Linked DNA regions of Homo sapiens. The protein of the gene in region 2 interacts with the protein of the main gene of each other region in a biochemical or structural test. Each region holds a gene or a part of one and is shown on either strand. Other genes may lie near its edges.

What was found.
Region 1: the proteins of ITPR1 (region 2) and CA8 form a complex in vitro, tested with the Homo sapiens proteins (one study listed by BioGRID).

What each region holds. Positions count from the first base shown.
Region 1 is NC_000008.11:60,208,155-60,215,981, reverse strand, and holds part of CA8 (carbonic anhydrase-related protein), read left to right. Parts: intron 1-7,062; coding exon 7,063-7,197; 3' UTR 7,198-7,232; exon of another isoform or gene 7,233-7,827. UniProt on the Homo sapiens protein: Does not have a carbonic anhydrase catalytic activity.
Region 2 is NC_000003.12:4,677,796-4,685,622, forward strand, and holds part of ITPR1 (inositol 1,4,5-trisphosphate-gated calcium channel ITPR1), read left to right. Parts: intron 1-2,757; coding exon 2,758-2,896; intron 2,897-3,568; coding exon 3,569-3,623; intron 3,624-5,590; coding exon 5,591-5,756; intron 5,757-5,832; coding exon 5,833-6,003; intron 6,004-6,485; coding exon 6,486-6,551; intron 6,552-7,273; coding exon 7,274-7,411; intron 7,412-7,827. UniProt on the Homo sapiens protein: Inositol 1,4,5-trisphosphate-gated calcium channel that, upon inositol 1,4,5-trisphosphate binding, mediates calcium release from the endoplasmic reticulum (ER).

The sequences.
Region 1 (7,827 bases), on a different chromosome or scaffold from region 2:
ACCATAAGGTTTATGTATGTAATTAAGCTGCTGAATATTATTGTGGAAAGAATTGGTATCTTGACATGCATCACCTGCCATAGGATAATAGTATTGGCACTAGCAACATTGAAGTTCTAAATCATAATGGTTTCCTATTAAATGCATAGTAGCTGTGATTCAGGGAGGTGTAGACTTCAGCTGAAGTGTAGTGTGGACTGTTAAGCCCATCATACATTGTCCTGAGTACTATTAATAGGAATTCTAGAATAGGAATTCTAAAATTGGAAGCCCCTTCTTAGCTGAATTTTTCATATTATTCCTGGTTAGCATGCCTTATGTAGGGAGAAAAAACACAATTGAACGGATCTGAATGAGTATATATTTCTTTTTTAAAAATTACCTCTAACCATTACATAACTTTATTAAAATTTTTTTATTTCCATAGGTGTTTAGGGAACAGGTGGTATTTGGTTACACGAGTAAGTTCTTTAGTGGTGATTTGTGAGATTTTGGTGGACCCATCACCCAAGCAGTATACACTGAACCCAACTTGTAGTCTTTTATCCCTCACCCCCTTCCCACCCTTTCCCCCTGAGTCCCCAAAGTGGGGATCCGGTGTGTGTGTGTGTGTGTGTGTGTGTATACACACACACACACGACAGTGTTTTTATCCACTCATTGATTATGGACATTTTAACCATTAAATAACTGTAATATAAACAACCGTCTAAGCATTCGGAAGCCAATCAGCTGGATTGTCGTGTTTAGAAATGAGATTCCAAGAACAGAATACAAATACCAAAACATTACCAAATCTAACAACAGAAATTTTAAGACATATTCTGATTTCACAGAGTCATTAAAATGTGAATACATATTAATCTTAGAATTGATAGAACAGGGTATTATGGTATAGTGCCATCTGTGCAAATACGTATGTACACATACAGAAATGGGTTGATAATTAAGTTTTGCTGTCCTTTTCCTGCCCTTTTCTTCCTCCTTTTTCTGCATTCCCTCCCTACTTATCTATTTCTTAGCTTATCTACATTTTCATATTAAATGTCTGTTTTTTCCTGTCTCTTTCAACTTAAAATAACACCAGTGAAATGAAGGAATATGAATGTGTTTGTTGTTTTTTCACCCTGTGGATACATGATACGTCTTCTAGAATATTGAAAACTGCTTTAAATGTTCTTTTCTTCTGTCTTTCCTCCTCTTCATTCCCTCTGCATTCCATGTTTCCTGTGGGTTGGAAAGTAGGACTCTTTACATCCTGACAGCCCGAGTTAGTGCCTGGCATGTGCTCAGCCTGTGGGATCTGGAAGCACATCTGGCCCTGGACAATTGAGGAAGTCTGACCCCATTCATGAAGCAGCAAGTCTTTCTCAGGGGTCTTCATGCTCCATATGGAATCGAAGGGGCTGTTTCCCTAAAGTCCAGGTTGCCGTAGGGCCACAGCATGGTTATGTTTGACAATCACTTCAAATGATTGGGAACATTTGTTATAGATTTTCAATGACTGGGAACATTTGTTGGAGATTTTCTTCTCTGTCCTTTCTTCAGGACCCACCTGAATGGGTCCCCTCTGACATTCAGGTGTTGCCAATGTGATGTATTAAGACATGGGACCTTTAAGAGGTGTTTAGGCCATGAGGGTCCTTCCCTTGTTAATGGATTAAGGCCCTTAAGAAAGAGGCTTCACACAGCATTTTCTTGTTGGCTTGCTTGTCCTTCTGCCTTCTGCTACATGAGGACGAATGAATAATGCCCTCACCAAATGCCAAATGTCTTGATCTTGGACTTCCAGCCTCCAGAACTGTGAGAAAATACATTTCTGTTCTTTATATATCATCCAGTCTCAGGTATTCTGTTATAACAGCACAAAACAGACGAAGACAGCCATGGTTTTCAGACTTGAGCATGTGTCAGATCCCCTGGAAGGCTTGTTGAAGCACAGATTGCTGCGTTCCACCCCTGTGTTGCTGATTCAGTAGGTCTGGGGTAGTTGCTGACAACTTAAACTTTTATTCTGGGAGGATACTTTGAGAACCACTGTTTCATATGTACCTGCATTCGTCTTTACATGTAATTGAGATCAGCGCTATAACCCGAGAATGCCGAGGTCCTGAAGGTGCGTGTGAAGGGCAGCGCTAGGCCAGCCCTGTCCAGTGGGAACATGATGTGATCCACATATTAAACTTTCTAGTAGCCATGGTAAAAAAAAAAAAAAGTCAAAAGAAACAGGTGAAATTAAGAAATTAATTCAAATAGTGTATTTAACCCAATACGTGCAAAATACTATCATTTTAGCATGTAGTCAAGGTAAAAAGTTATTGATGAGATTTCTCTCCTTATTTTCATACTGAGTCTTTGCCTTGCAGTGTGTATTCTGCACTTCCAGCACATCTCAGATTGGACAAGCCAAATTTCGAGTGCTTGGTGGCCATGTGGGCCTGGTGGCTGCCATCCTGGACAGTGCAAATCAAGGATCTTCTCTCTGGGGAGACTCTTTCTTCCCTTTCTTAAAATGTGTTATTTTTAATTGCTTGTAGAGATTTTTATATGTATTTTCTCAGTGTCTTAAGTGATAGGCAGCACTTTCCCTGTGGTTGTGAGCTCTCTAATCTGTAATTCTTTAGTATGTTTAAATCTGTGTGGCTCAGAAACTCTCTTGAGGTGATGAGGGCCGACAACGGCCAAGGCTGAGGCTCCTTTAGGCTGGGGATGGCTTCAGGACCGTTGACGTCGGTGTTACCAGGGAGTGAATGTTCTTCCTACTCTCTTCCTCAAAAAAATTGAAAAGATCGATTAAAGAGTCATGACAGAGTGAGAGTTGGTTTATGAATGAGAGGTTGGTAAGGAAGAGGGAGCATTGGTTTTAGATAGAACATTATATAATGGGGTAGAAGAGAAATGAGGCAAAAACAAGGCTGCAGTACATGAAAGGTGGAGAGTCCTCTCTGTCTATATCTGTCTCTGTATACATATATGGACTGTTTAAGTACAATTTGCTTTTGACTTTTTAATTTGATTAGTACCATTTGGAATTGTGTTATTCTGACTCTTGTTATTGATAATAAAAGAAAGTGAGAGCACTAACTTTTATAAAGAACCATTTTATCAAGGTCATAAAATATCTGTCACCTCCCAAAGTTTCCTCCCATGTCCTTTGTTGTTAAAATATTTTACTGGGTCAGAACGCTTAACATAAGATCTACCATCTTAGCATTTTAAAGTGTACAATGCAGTATTGTTAACTATAGGTACTGTGCTGTATAGGAGACCTCGAGGACTTATTTATCTTGCATAACTGAAATTTTGTACCCTTTAACCATTACATCCCCATTTCTGCTTCCTGCCAGCTCTTGGCAGCTGCCATTCTTCTCTCTGCTTCTAAGAGTTTGATTGTTTTAGATTCCACATATAAGTGAGTTCATACAATACTTGTGTTTCCATGTCTTGTTGATTTCCACTTCTGGATATAGATTGAAAGAAATTGAAGTCAGTATCTTGAAGAGATACCTGCACTCCCATGTTCATTAAGCCAAGACAGGGAAACCACATAAATGTCCATAGATGGGTTAATGGATAGAGCATACTGACTTTTATGTGTTGTATTTCTCTTTTAACATGATGACACATGAAATGCAAGTGAAAATAAATCTATTAGAACTTGGGAACTCCTGAAAGTTAAGTAGCCCTAAACTGCAAACCCTGGAAATTAGCCCTTTGAATGCATTAATAAAGAAGCAGTTTTAAAGCTGAACTTTTAGTGGATAATTTGGTTTTTGAGGCAGTGAAGATTGGAATAAATGTCTTAGACCAATTGGAGTGCACCTGTCGTTCAAAGAACAGTGGCTGTTGAATCTAGTACCTTCAGAAGATGGCGACTTCTCCATGAAATGTTCAATGTTGGTGCCCCGCATTCAGTTTTCTCTTAAATTGGTTAAAAACAAATAACACATACTATGTTTAAGTGGAGTAGCATTAACAATAGATGCAGTCATACATTCAGATATATGTGATAATAATGGTCTCTGGAAGGCCTTGACATTTGAGTTTCATTAAAGATTTCTATCCTGAAATATTATTCTATTATTCTGTTCATTTATCACAATCTCTCATTTCAGTGTGGCTGATTCAGTATGCACTTGAAACCATTTGAAGTGACTAAAGGGTTTTGGGGGTGGTTGCTTTAGAAAAATTGGCATTTCAGAAAGACACATTTTCCCCTCCATCTCTGTTGATGTTGGAAGTCTTCAAAGTGTTGCTGTGATCAGAGAAAAACATTTCTTGTGAAATAGTTTTCTCTGAGAGTACAGTGATTTGAGACTGGCTGGCTGTTGATTCAGATCATCTCTTCTGGAAGAAGTTGTTTTCACAGAATGTGCTTCAGGGTGAGGCCTGGGGCTTGAAAGGTTTATCTCCAGTTCAGAATGCATAAATATAAAATTAACCCAGCTTTAAAATAATCTTCAAAGTCAATAAAAAATGGATTCTTTCATATGTTGAGGCAGTAAAGTTCCCAGCCCACATTGCTCCTCAGTGACCTGTGCATGCTTCATAGGTTCAGGTTGCAGGTATTAAGTATGATTACATGGAAAGCGAATGCTAGGAGAGATGACTTTAAATTTCCTCAGTGAAATTATTGGTTTATTATAAATACTTTCTGCATATACAACTGTAGCTAAATATTTATCTCAAAGTGCTGAAGGTTTCACTTCAAAAGAAGTTGTGCAATAGAAGTGCTAGTATTTGTCAGACACTTCCTATGTGCTTGGAACTATGCTGAGTGATTTTCATGAATGTTCTTTCTTATTTCCTAGGCTATCCTTGTGAATACTGTTATTATTATGTCTGTTATACACATGTGGAAACTGAGGTTTGAAGAGGTGAAGTCATTTGATCTTTTGGGTCTTAGGTGGCAGAGCACGACAAGAATTGGCCTTTGGGTGCAGAGTCCACTGCCCTCACTGTGATATTCTTCTTTTTGAAAAAGCATAAGATTCTCTCACTGACCAGGTTCCTTTTCACTCTGTACTTAGGGAAAACTTTAAGGTGAAAGCAAATAATAAGGGATTCTCATGCAGCTTCGTCTCTAGAAGTTTTTCAGATGCAACAAGCAATAGATGCTACTCGTATTTTCATTCTAATAGCTGAAGAAGATCTAGCGAAAAACCATCAAGTAGATTAAACAGCTGATTGCTTATCTGACTGGCTTCTCTATGTAAATACAGCATATAGGTACAATAAAAAACTAAACAGGACAATCCCAGTTGGGTCAGACTTAATCTCATTAAGGGAAATCAACCAGTATTCAGTGACATGGAAAAATAAGACATTCGAAGCGCATGTAAGTACAGAGAGAAAAAAAAAAAACCCACAGAAAAGAAGCTGGCTTTCTGACCCGGATTCTAATTGAACTATCCGTTTAATTTTTTTCCAACTCTATGTATGAGTGTGTTGAATTAGAATGTTGTGGGATTCAACTCTTGGAGTCAGGGAGCCTCTCCTGAGGAAAATGCACATGTAAAAATTTGCATATCATTCAGGGCTTTCGTGGGCCCCCTAAAGTCTCTATAGGTGTCTCTTGACTTTGTTGAAACCCCTGAATTAGTTGCTGTCTTGTGTTTCATTTCTCTTTATGAATGGCAGAATTCTATAGCTATGTCATATTAAGGATCTTTGTGGATATAATCCCTTGATACACAGATGGTGAACTTTTGGTGGATTGATGCTGCCCAAATCACGTTTGCTCAATACCCTGGGGTATGTGAAGGAGATAGATTATATTGAATTGACTAGAATTCCTAAAGAGATGACTGTGGAGCTGAGAAAAGAGCAGGTAGACTTGGAATTGTCAGACTTACCCACTAGCTAATCTGGTAATTTTCAAAACTTCCAGCCTCAGTTTCCCCTTCTGTATATGGAATGAAGAATGTGTCATGTGACTGTGTGGCACTTAAGTGAATTAACAGACAATGAACCCTGTAGTTAAATTGATAGATGGGAATAATCCTGGGGAATGCTCATCACTTTTGCTTGTTGCTTAAACATTAGTATTCCCCAGAGAGTCACGTCTGGCAGGCTCTGGGTTCTTAGAGAAACTGTAGGGTGGCTGATGGGCAATGTCCCTGAGGACTCTGAGAACCTTTTCACTTACAGTGGGGAAGCCATGGGACCTGGAGAGCCCACCTAATAAAGGGAAATGAACTTGAAAATCAATATTGTAAAGACAGGAATTTGGGCTCAGACTTTTGAAAAATCATTTTTTTGGACCTGTGCTCTCCAGAGGGCTAGAAAAGTGGCAAAAGTCTTTTGATGAAAGGAAACCTTGAATCTATCTGATAAATCTAAGATCTAATCAGTGTTTACATACAGTAACATAAGAATCCATTAATTAAAATGTACTTGGAAAGCATTTAAGAGCACATTCATTTGTTCACTTTTTCTTATTATGCTATAGATAGGCATAAAACCTTTTTGGGAGAGGTTTGTATCATTGTTTTTTGGAGATGGAGTCTGGCTCTGTCACTCAGGCTGGAGTGCAACGGTGTGATCTCGGCTCACTGCAACCTCCGCCTCATGGGTTCAAGTGATTTCTCCTGCCTCAGCCTCCTGAGTAGCTGGGATTACAGGTGTGCACCACCAAGCCTGGCTGATTTTTGTATTTTTAGTAGAGACAGGGTTTCACCGTGTTGATCAGGCTGCTGTTGAACTCTTGACCTTGTGACCTGCCCACCTTGGCCACCCAAAGTGATGGGATTACAGGCGTGAGCCACTGTGCCCGGCCTGTATCATTTTTACATTAACAAATGGAGCAGATTTCTTTATCTATTTGAGTTGTTCAGAGATCTTGATATGTCTACTTCTGTTGTCATTTCTTGAAAGGGTCCTCTCTAACGTCTTAGGTCTGGAAGAATTAAGTCTGTTTTTTTTCTTTTTGAAGCTTAATTTTAATTTTCTCTTCAATAATTCTTGTAATTTATACATATTTTATGCATGTCATTTATGAAACTCCAATCTTGTTAATGTCCGATAATTGATTAATCTATTTTCTTCTGCTTTTATTTTCAGATAGAAGAATTTCGAAGGCTGAGGACACATGTTAAGGGGGCAGAACTTGTGGAAGGCTGTGATGGGATTTTGGGAGACAACTTTCGGCCCACTCAGCCTCTTAGTGACAGAGTCATTAGAGCTGCATTTCAGTAGCCAAAGAGGACAGGAACAAGTCTGTCTTCATGAGGGTATGTCCAGATTAAGTAAGGAAAATGAGGTGCACAGCTACTTAAACCTAGCGTACCAAAGGTACACTTATTGTGATCCTGGTAATTTAGTAATAAAAGCGTATGTACTTCATCTTGATAAAATTTATGACACATTCTTGAGCTCTGTTAATTACAGGTCAAGTAGGTATTTTAATTTTATGCAGTATTGAAGAAAAACTATGATTATATTTTCCTATCAGAGTAGCCTTTAATTCCAAGTTTTGGTGGCTTTCATAAGAACAGACACCCTCAGGCCCAGAAAAAGTGACATGCATGCATACCTCTTTAGTAACTTACCATGTTGTCCCCGTGAAGCAGCACCAGTCATGTCCCAGTGACCAAGGAGCACATAGGAGGGGACTTGGGGAGCGTGTGAGCCTCAGTGTGGACCCTTCTCGTCTCCTGCAGAATTGATCCTCTTGTTTCTCAGGGGAGGGAGCATATCTGGCATGCATTGAAATACTTCTTCTATGGAAGTGCCTTTTATATGATAAATTGAGAAGCACTTATTAATTATCTGAATATGATACACTATTGATTGAAACATAATCTATGTATTTTAATATATAGAATT
Region 2 (7,827 bases):
GTTGCTGTTTGGGGAGAGAATAATTGTAAGAGCAAAGTCCTTCTGTAGGCAAGCGGGGGTGGAATCTAGTATATAGGGAAGGCTTGGTCGTAGGCATGAAACCCTCCCAAGCCTCTCTACAGCTTTGAACCCCACCCGACAACCTGCGCTTCCCTCTTTCTGTGCCGTGTAGGTAACTTTTATTCATCAACAAAATCATCTGCTCCTTAATGGAAAGAATTATGTGTTAGCACCTTCTTTTTTTTTATCCCATGTTGCCTGATCTCAACCCCAACAGATGTAGTAGAAATTCATAAATGTTTAAGATCTGGGGGTTTTATTTTTTAGTCTGAAATCACCCTTTACCAATGCTTTGAAAGTTTTAATGGGTTGTCTCAAAGTCATGTAATTAGGACGATAAAGACAGCTTAAGTAAAGGAGAAATCTTACTGAATTTATGCCTGAGCAACAGTAGAGAAAGATTCCTTTTTTAAAACTTTATTTTTTAATAAATTTTATTTTTACTTTTATTTTCAATTTTTTTTGTCGAGACAAAATATACATATAAAATTTGCAGGCCATGGTCCATGTGTTCCAAAGTGGTGTCTTGGACGTTTATCAGAAACGACGCAGTGCAAAACTTGGTCACATCTTGAGGTCCACTCACCGTGGTGACCTAAGAAGGATTGGTCGATTGAGTCATTCTTTCCACGGGTACTTATTGACTCCCTACCATGTGCACTGTGAGGAATGCAAAAATGATTCGAACAGGGGCTCCATCCACAGGGGTTTATAGTCTGATGGGAGAATAAGGTATGATGAAGCTGCGTGGATGTGGAAATAAAACCACCAGAAAGTTCTTCTGAGACTGGAGTCCGGGAGTGGGGTCATGTGACTCCACATGGTAAAGATCAGAGAAGGGTTGATGGAGGAGGTAGGGTTTCATCTGAGCCTTTAAGGTGCATGGGCTTTGTACATGGAGAAACAAGGGCCCGTTCTCAGGTGGATGGAGCAGCCTGAAGCCGAGTACCATGGGATGCAGGTCAGTGGGCAGTTCTTGCTGAGCAGAGACATAGAGTGTGCTGAGGGGAAGTTGTCAGAAGTGAGTTTGGAAAGGAGGACCAAGCCACACTGCACAGAGCTTTGGGTGTCTAAAATGCTAAGGCTTATTCTCTGTTGAGCCTTTGAAAGTCTTCAAGCGGGAGCTTAACATAAGAACAAGTGGTTAGGAGGCTGATTTGGTGAATTTGGTTCTGTAAATGGAACAGGCAGGAGATAATGAGGCCTTGAGCAGGGAGAAACGGCAGTAGGGGAGAACTCTATGAGAAGCGGTAAATGGAGAACCACCAGGACTTAGTCTCTGATTAGATGTGTGTCCAGGAAGGAGGCGCTGATGATCAGGCAACTGACTGAGGTTGAGGAAACCCAGGCAGAAAGTAGATGAAGGCAAGACTGACAATGTTAGTGTGTTAGCGCTCTCCAGAGAAACAGAACAAATAGGATACATACAGATAGACAAGAGGGGGTTTATTATGGGAATTGGCCTCACGCAGTTACGGAGGCCGAGAAGTCCCCCAGTCTGCCACAGCAAGCTGTGTCCCGGGAAAGCCAGTGGTGTGATTCAGCCTGAGTCCCAAGGCTGAGAACCAGGGGAGCTGAAGGTGTAACTCTCAGTCTGAGGCCAAAAGCCGGAGAACCTGGAGCTCTGATGGGCAGGAGAAGATGAGTGTCCCAGCTCCAGAACAGGTGGATTCGGTCTTCCTCCACCTGTTTGCTCTATCCAGGCCCTCCGTGGATTGGATGGTGCCCACTCACACTGGGTGAGAGCGGATCTTCTTTACTCAGCTCACTGATTCAAATGCCAGTCCATTCTGGAAACCCCCTCATAGATTTACCCGGAAATAAAGTTGTACAAGCTGTCTAGGTGTCCTTGAACCCAGTCAAGTTGGCATATAAAATTAACCATCGCAGTTACTTTTGTGAAACACTGAGTTTGAGGCCCTGGGAAGATAGCAAATAGGATGTCCAACAGTCTGTAGGACACATACACTGAGAGCATGGAGGCAGGCCAGAGACCTATCTCCCTCTGGAAGAGGTGATGGCCACTGGACTGGGAAAGGTTGCTGGGAGGCTAAGCAGAGACAAGGGGAGAACGGAAGGAAGAACGTGAGTGAGATCCCTACATGATGTCAGCTGCTCAATCTTTCTTTTTGGTTCTAGCAGCAATCCTGGGAAAAGTGACCCTGTGTTGGAATAAAGGGTGAGGGAATACAGGAGGCAAAAGAAGAGGGTGTCCAAGGGTTTGTACCCAAACCAGGGGAAACAACCAGAAACAGGAAATAGGAACCAAGCTAATTTTCCATAGTAAAAAACAAATTTTTTTTTGTTAATTCTCTTAAATCCAAAGCAGGCAACTTCACTCTTTTCAGTGTTAGGCCCAGAGTTGACATTCAATACTTACTGAAATGGAGTCTTGTTTTATAGACTCCATTTATGGAGCCAGGAGTGAGTGATTTAGTGTTCCAATTGTTAAATTAATTGCCAGGATGCTGAAGCTTACACTAGAGGCTAAGGTGCTATGGGCAGACTTCATATGCCCCATGGAAGTCTGCTGTTGTTAAAATGACTGTTGAAATCTAAGCCAAATACTTGGCTCACTTAGTGCTTAAGGTAATTGATGCAGCTGATACCAGGCCCCGCCAGTGTGTGGTGGCTTGGCAGAGTCAAGATGGTATGTTAATGTAACCAATCTGTTTCCATTTCCACTTGAATCTTTAGTTTATTTTGAATGTGAGGTTGGATTATAGGATCTCCTGCCTCCTGTGTATATTTAAGCGAGAGTTTGATGAAAGCAATTCCCAGACTTCAGAAACATCCTCCGGAAACAGCAGCCAAGAAGGGCCAAGTAATGTACCAGGTTAGTGATTCAGAATGGAATTTCAGCCATAGAATGGGACCTGGCTCTAAGGAAAATGGGGAGAGCAAACAGTATCTTCTAGAAAAAGGGTGAAAATGGTTTTGAGGATTATTGCACCAGGGCATCATCCTGGCAGTTACTCTTTTTGAGCAAGTGAATAATTGATAGAGCCCAGATTCCTTCTGGGTTGGATCTTGTTTCCTTCCATCTGGGAGTGTCTTAGTGATGAGACAGTTGAGGTTTCCAGCATTGTGGCTACCCACCTCCCCCGCAAAAATACCAAAATAAAAACAGTAACAAAAAACTCTCCAGGAGACTTCTTGACCACTAGCAGCTTTTACTCACTTTGGAAGTTTTTCCCTGCCCAGGAACTAGTGGTGACGGGAGATGGTAGGAGTAGAAATAATCCCATCTACCAAGCCCAAGCTTCCATGAGTGAGATCATTGCTGTCCTTTACCAGGGGACCATGCAGTGAGGGAGGAAGGGGCAGGAATGTGGAATATGTGGTTAATGTCATCTGGGTTAGTCACTCTGCATAGCTTTGCAATATAATGTTCTGGGAGATTTGGGGTTAACTCAACAGCTTTACCCTGCAAAACTTATGGATGAGTTCACCAGCAGCATGTTTGCAGACCTTCCTGCATCTGAAGTGGTATGTTCTAACTTTTCAGGTGCTCTTGACTTTGAACACATTGAAGAACAAGCAGAAGGCATCTTTGGAGGAAGGAAAGTATATTTTCAGTTACTGTTTTGTAGGGAAGGCTGCTCTTCCAGAGCTCTCAGAGGCCTTCCCTTTATTATGTTAGTAAATATTTAGTCTCTGGGCTTAGGTTGTTTTGGTGCTATCTTTGGAACTGTTAGTACTCAAGTCAGAGTTAACTTGGTTGGCTTGATTGGGAGGAGAGAGAGAGTGAGAGAGAGAGAGAGAGAAAGTGTGTGTGTGTGTGTGTGTGTGTGTGTGTGTGTCCCACCTAGGACAGAAAGGATTTAAGGAGATTTCTCAAAATACCTACATTACAAGATTATTTTTACATAGTGAGGAAATGCAATCAAAAGAAGAATAGAAAGAGAGAGGGGCTCAAAACAGAGTGAAGTTAGTAAGATCATGTCCTGCTGCTGCTGCTGGGCTACAATTTTATCCCTGAGCTCCTTACAGGCTATGCAACAAAGAAAGCAAAATCTGGTCTTTCATTGTTCCTAATATTAATGTATGAACCCCTTTAAAAAAAAACCGCACTGGTCAATTTTGACTTAAGACATTATTATAATTATGGAACTCTTATACCTCCAAGTATAAAATTTGGTATAAACACCATATGCACATAGTTCTTATAATTAGCACACTTGGTTTGATTATTGCTTTATAACATATTACTCCAAAAAACTTAAGGATTCAAACCACCACCATTTTATTAATACTTCTTACAGTCCTGTGGCTTGATTAAGCTGGATGGTTCTTCTGCTGGTGGTCACTGTTGGGTCTGTCATACTGTAGTGAGGTGGTAACTGGGGCTGGCACCTCCAAGTTGGATTATTCACATTTCTGGCACTATAGCAGAGATGCCTGCAAGGCCAGAACTTCTTTCTCTCTCTGTCCATGTGGATAGCTTGGGCTTCTTTACAGCACGGTGGCTGACTCAAAAAGCAAATGTTCTAAGAGGACAAGCCAACAGTATGCAAGTGCTAATTGGGCCTCTGCTTGCATTGCATCTCCTAATATCTTATTGTTCAAGCAAATCCCATGGCCAAGCTCATTGTCAGTGTGGGAGGGGACTACATAAGGGTTTGAACACTCTGTTGGGGCCCACCAGTGTTAATAGTCTACCTCAATGCTTAATATAAAACCTGTGAAATTTGAATTAGCAACATTATGTACTATGATGGAAGATGTTTTTCTGAAACTTAAACATGGTATTGTGAGTTTAGCATAATACAGGTTCCATGTGCTGTGTGATCACTCAGCTCTCCCGCCATTTTCCTCATAGTGAACAGCATTGAAACCTTCACACCTTTTTGGAATACATAGCATGAATACAGTATTTATAAGTCTTCTCTGTGCTTTTCTTATTAGCCAGCAACCAGGAAGTTTCCACCATTTGTCATTCATTTGACTCTAAACCCAATATAGGTGCAGACCCAATAATTGACTAGCAGTGCTCAGTTATGGAGTAGTCTGCCATTTGATCTAGGATATGCTTATTAATATTTAAATATAGTCAGGCATGGTAGTGCATTCCTATAGTCCCAGCTACTCAGTATGCTAAGGCAGGAGGATCATTTGAGCATAGGAGTTTGAATTCAGCCTGGGCAACATAGCAAGACCTCATCTCTAAAAACTAAATACATAAACTAATAACTTAGGAGAAACACATCCTCTTGCAGTTCTCAGACCACAGACGAAGCCCAGCAGAAGAACACCCTATGTAGATGTTGAGAATCTAATGCTAGTCTTGTCACTTTGGCTTAAAATTTGACTTATCTTTTAATATGACATCTTCCTTGTCCCCTCACCTCATAATATAGTTGAAGATGAAGCAAGGCTGTATTGTTAAAGGAGCTAATGAAAAGTGAAATTGCATGTCTGGAGATCACAGTGCTAGAAATGCAACTAGGTTAGGTGCATCTGGGCCCAAGGGGCGTGAGAGGAGGCATTTGTCATTCATTTGGCCTTTCCCCACCTTGTGCTCCTTTAGTGAGGAGAACACCCCACTGGACTTGGATGACCACGGCGGCAGAACCTTTCTCCGTGTCCTGCTCCACTTGACGATGCATGACTACCCACCCCTGGTGTCAGGGGCCCTGCAGCTCCTCTTCCGGCACTTCAGCCAGAGGCAGGAGGTGCTCCAGGCCTTCAAACAGGTAGCTCAGGTCACCCACGTGTGTGTTGTCTGTCCAAGAAGCTGTTGTGTGCACCTAACGGATTGCGTTCATTAAGGTTCAACTGCTGGTTACCAGCCAAGATGTGGACAACTACAAACAGATCAAACAAGACTTGGATCAACTGAGGTCCATCGTGGAAAAGTCAGAGCTTTGGGTGTACAAAGGGCAGGGCCCCGATGAGACTATGGATGGTGCATCTGGAGAAAATGAACATAAGAAAACGGAGGTGAGTGAAACACAAGTTATGCTGCCAAAGTGGATGGATGGGCTTCTCGAAACTAGGGAGCATCCTCTTCTGGTTTTAGGTATAAATGTGATAGGATTTATTTTCAAGAGATCTGCTTGTTAAGTCACCAAGATCACAAGCTGTTTGCCTAGGAAATAAGCTACGAATCAAAGTTTAGCTATGTCTCCTGTGCAGCCTTGGACCATGTAGAAGAGACTGCGATATTGAGTGAATTAGCACCAGGTTTCCCTTACAGACCCACTTGGGAATTGACCTGTTCTCTAGGCATGGCCCAGCCCACTACTATCCCTTCCCAAGGAAACCCATAGCAAGTAGGTAGATGACTGGGGCATAAGCCCAGCATGACTATTGTAAAACAGTATAGAACTCCCTTTCTTTCCTAAAGGTCGATGCTAACTGTAAAAAACTGACAGTAGCCCAAGAGTTGTACAGATCACACTTGTGTTCACTTTGGTTTCTAGGAGGGAAATAACAAGCCACAAAAGCATGAAAGCACCAGCAGCTACAACTACAGAGTGGTCAAAGAGGTAAGCTCCTCCCCCACCACCATTTTTCCTTTCTTTATGAATTCTCTAAGGAGCTTTAGTTTGTGATAGTCAAGTTGAAGGTACACACATTTGAGCTTTTTTCTTCATGTGGTTTAACAGGGAGAAAGTAGAGCTCAGAGGTTAAGCTCATGGGTTTTGGCATCAGATCTGGGCTCCACACCCAGCTCTTCTACTTATTATTTTTGTCCTCAGCTTCCTCACCTTTTGTAGGTGCAACCTTTCGTAGGCACCGCATATTTCTGAAGCTTTACAATTGAAGGAAGGACTAATTGAGAATACTGTCAGGGAGTCATCTAAGTGCCTGGTACACAGTGTCCCCACTGAGAGCTGTAGTTTTTTAGAAACCTTTGCGTACGCTGGTTCAAAGTTGGGAGGCTGGGAGCTTTGTGTGTTTTACCCCAGAGCAAACTCTTCCCAGGGTCTCGGCAATGATGCCAGGTCATTCCATTTTAAGCGATATCTCTGAAACTGTCCCACTTGTTGTTGAAGCCATAATCCCCTGCTTATTCTGGAAGACGTGACCTTAGTCTTATGGATTTGGCTTGATGGAGTCAACAGAAATGCCACATACTGAAGGAATTTTGTTTTACGTTTTTAATGCATTATAATCCCCTTTGCCTCCCTGCCCGCCACCACCCTCTGCAATCTTTTTCCAGCTATAGTTCCTAGTTTTCTGAGACTGATTTCTTTCATTCTACTAGATTTTGATTCGGCTTAGCAAACTCTGTGTTCAAGAGAGTGCCTCAGTGAGAAAGAGCAGGAAGCAGCAACAGCGTCTGCTCCGGAACATGGGCGCGCACGCCGTGGTGCTGGAGCTGCTGCAGATTCCCTATGAGAAGGTGAGCGGTGCCTCATGCACAGCAGCTGCTCTCAGGATGGGGCGGATCCCTGGGTTTCCCCAAACTCTTCACATCTGGATATTGTTAGTGAAGAAATGCATCCAGTGTGACTATTGTGACTACAAAGCAATTTCAGGTATTGATATGAAACAGAGCATCTGAAAAATAAAGTAAAATCACCCGTGAATAATCCTCATCCCCAGTTTTAAGATTCTGTAAAGAAAGAGAGTCCATTTATTCTCCATACTCCCAAGACATATTGGATAGAGACAACTTGGTCTGTGTCAGAGCTTAGAGCTATATCTACCCATGAGTTGGTGTGTTTCAATTTCATTTGCAATGTGACTCAACCAATTTAAGTATCACCAGCTATTAAGTGCATGTAGGAACATGGGATGTGCCCACTTTTGAAGTCC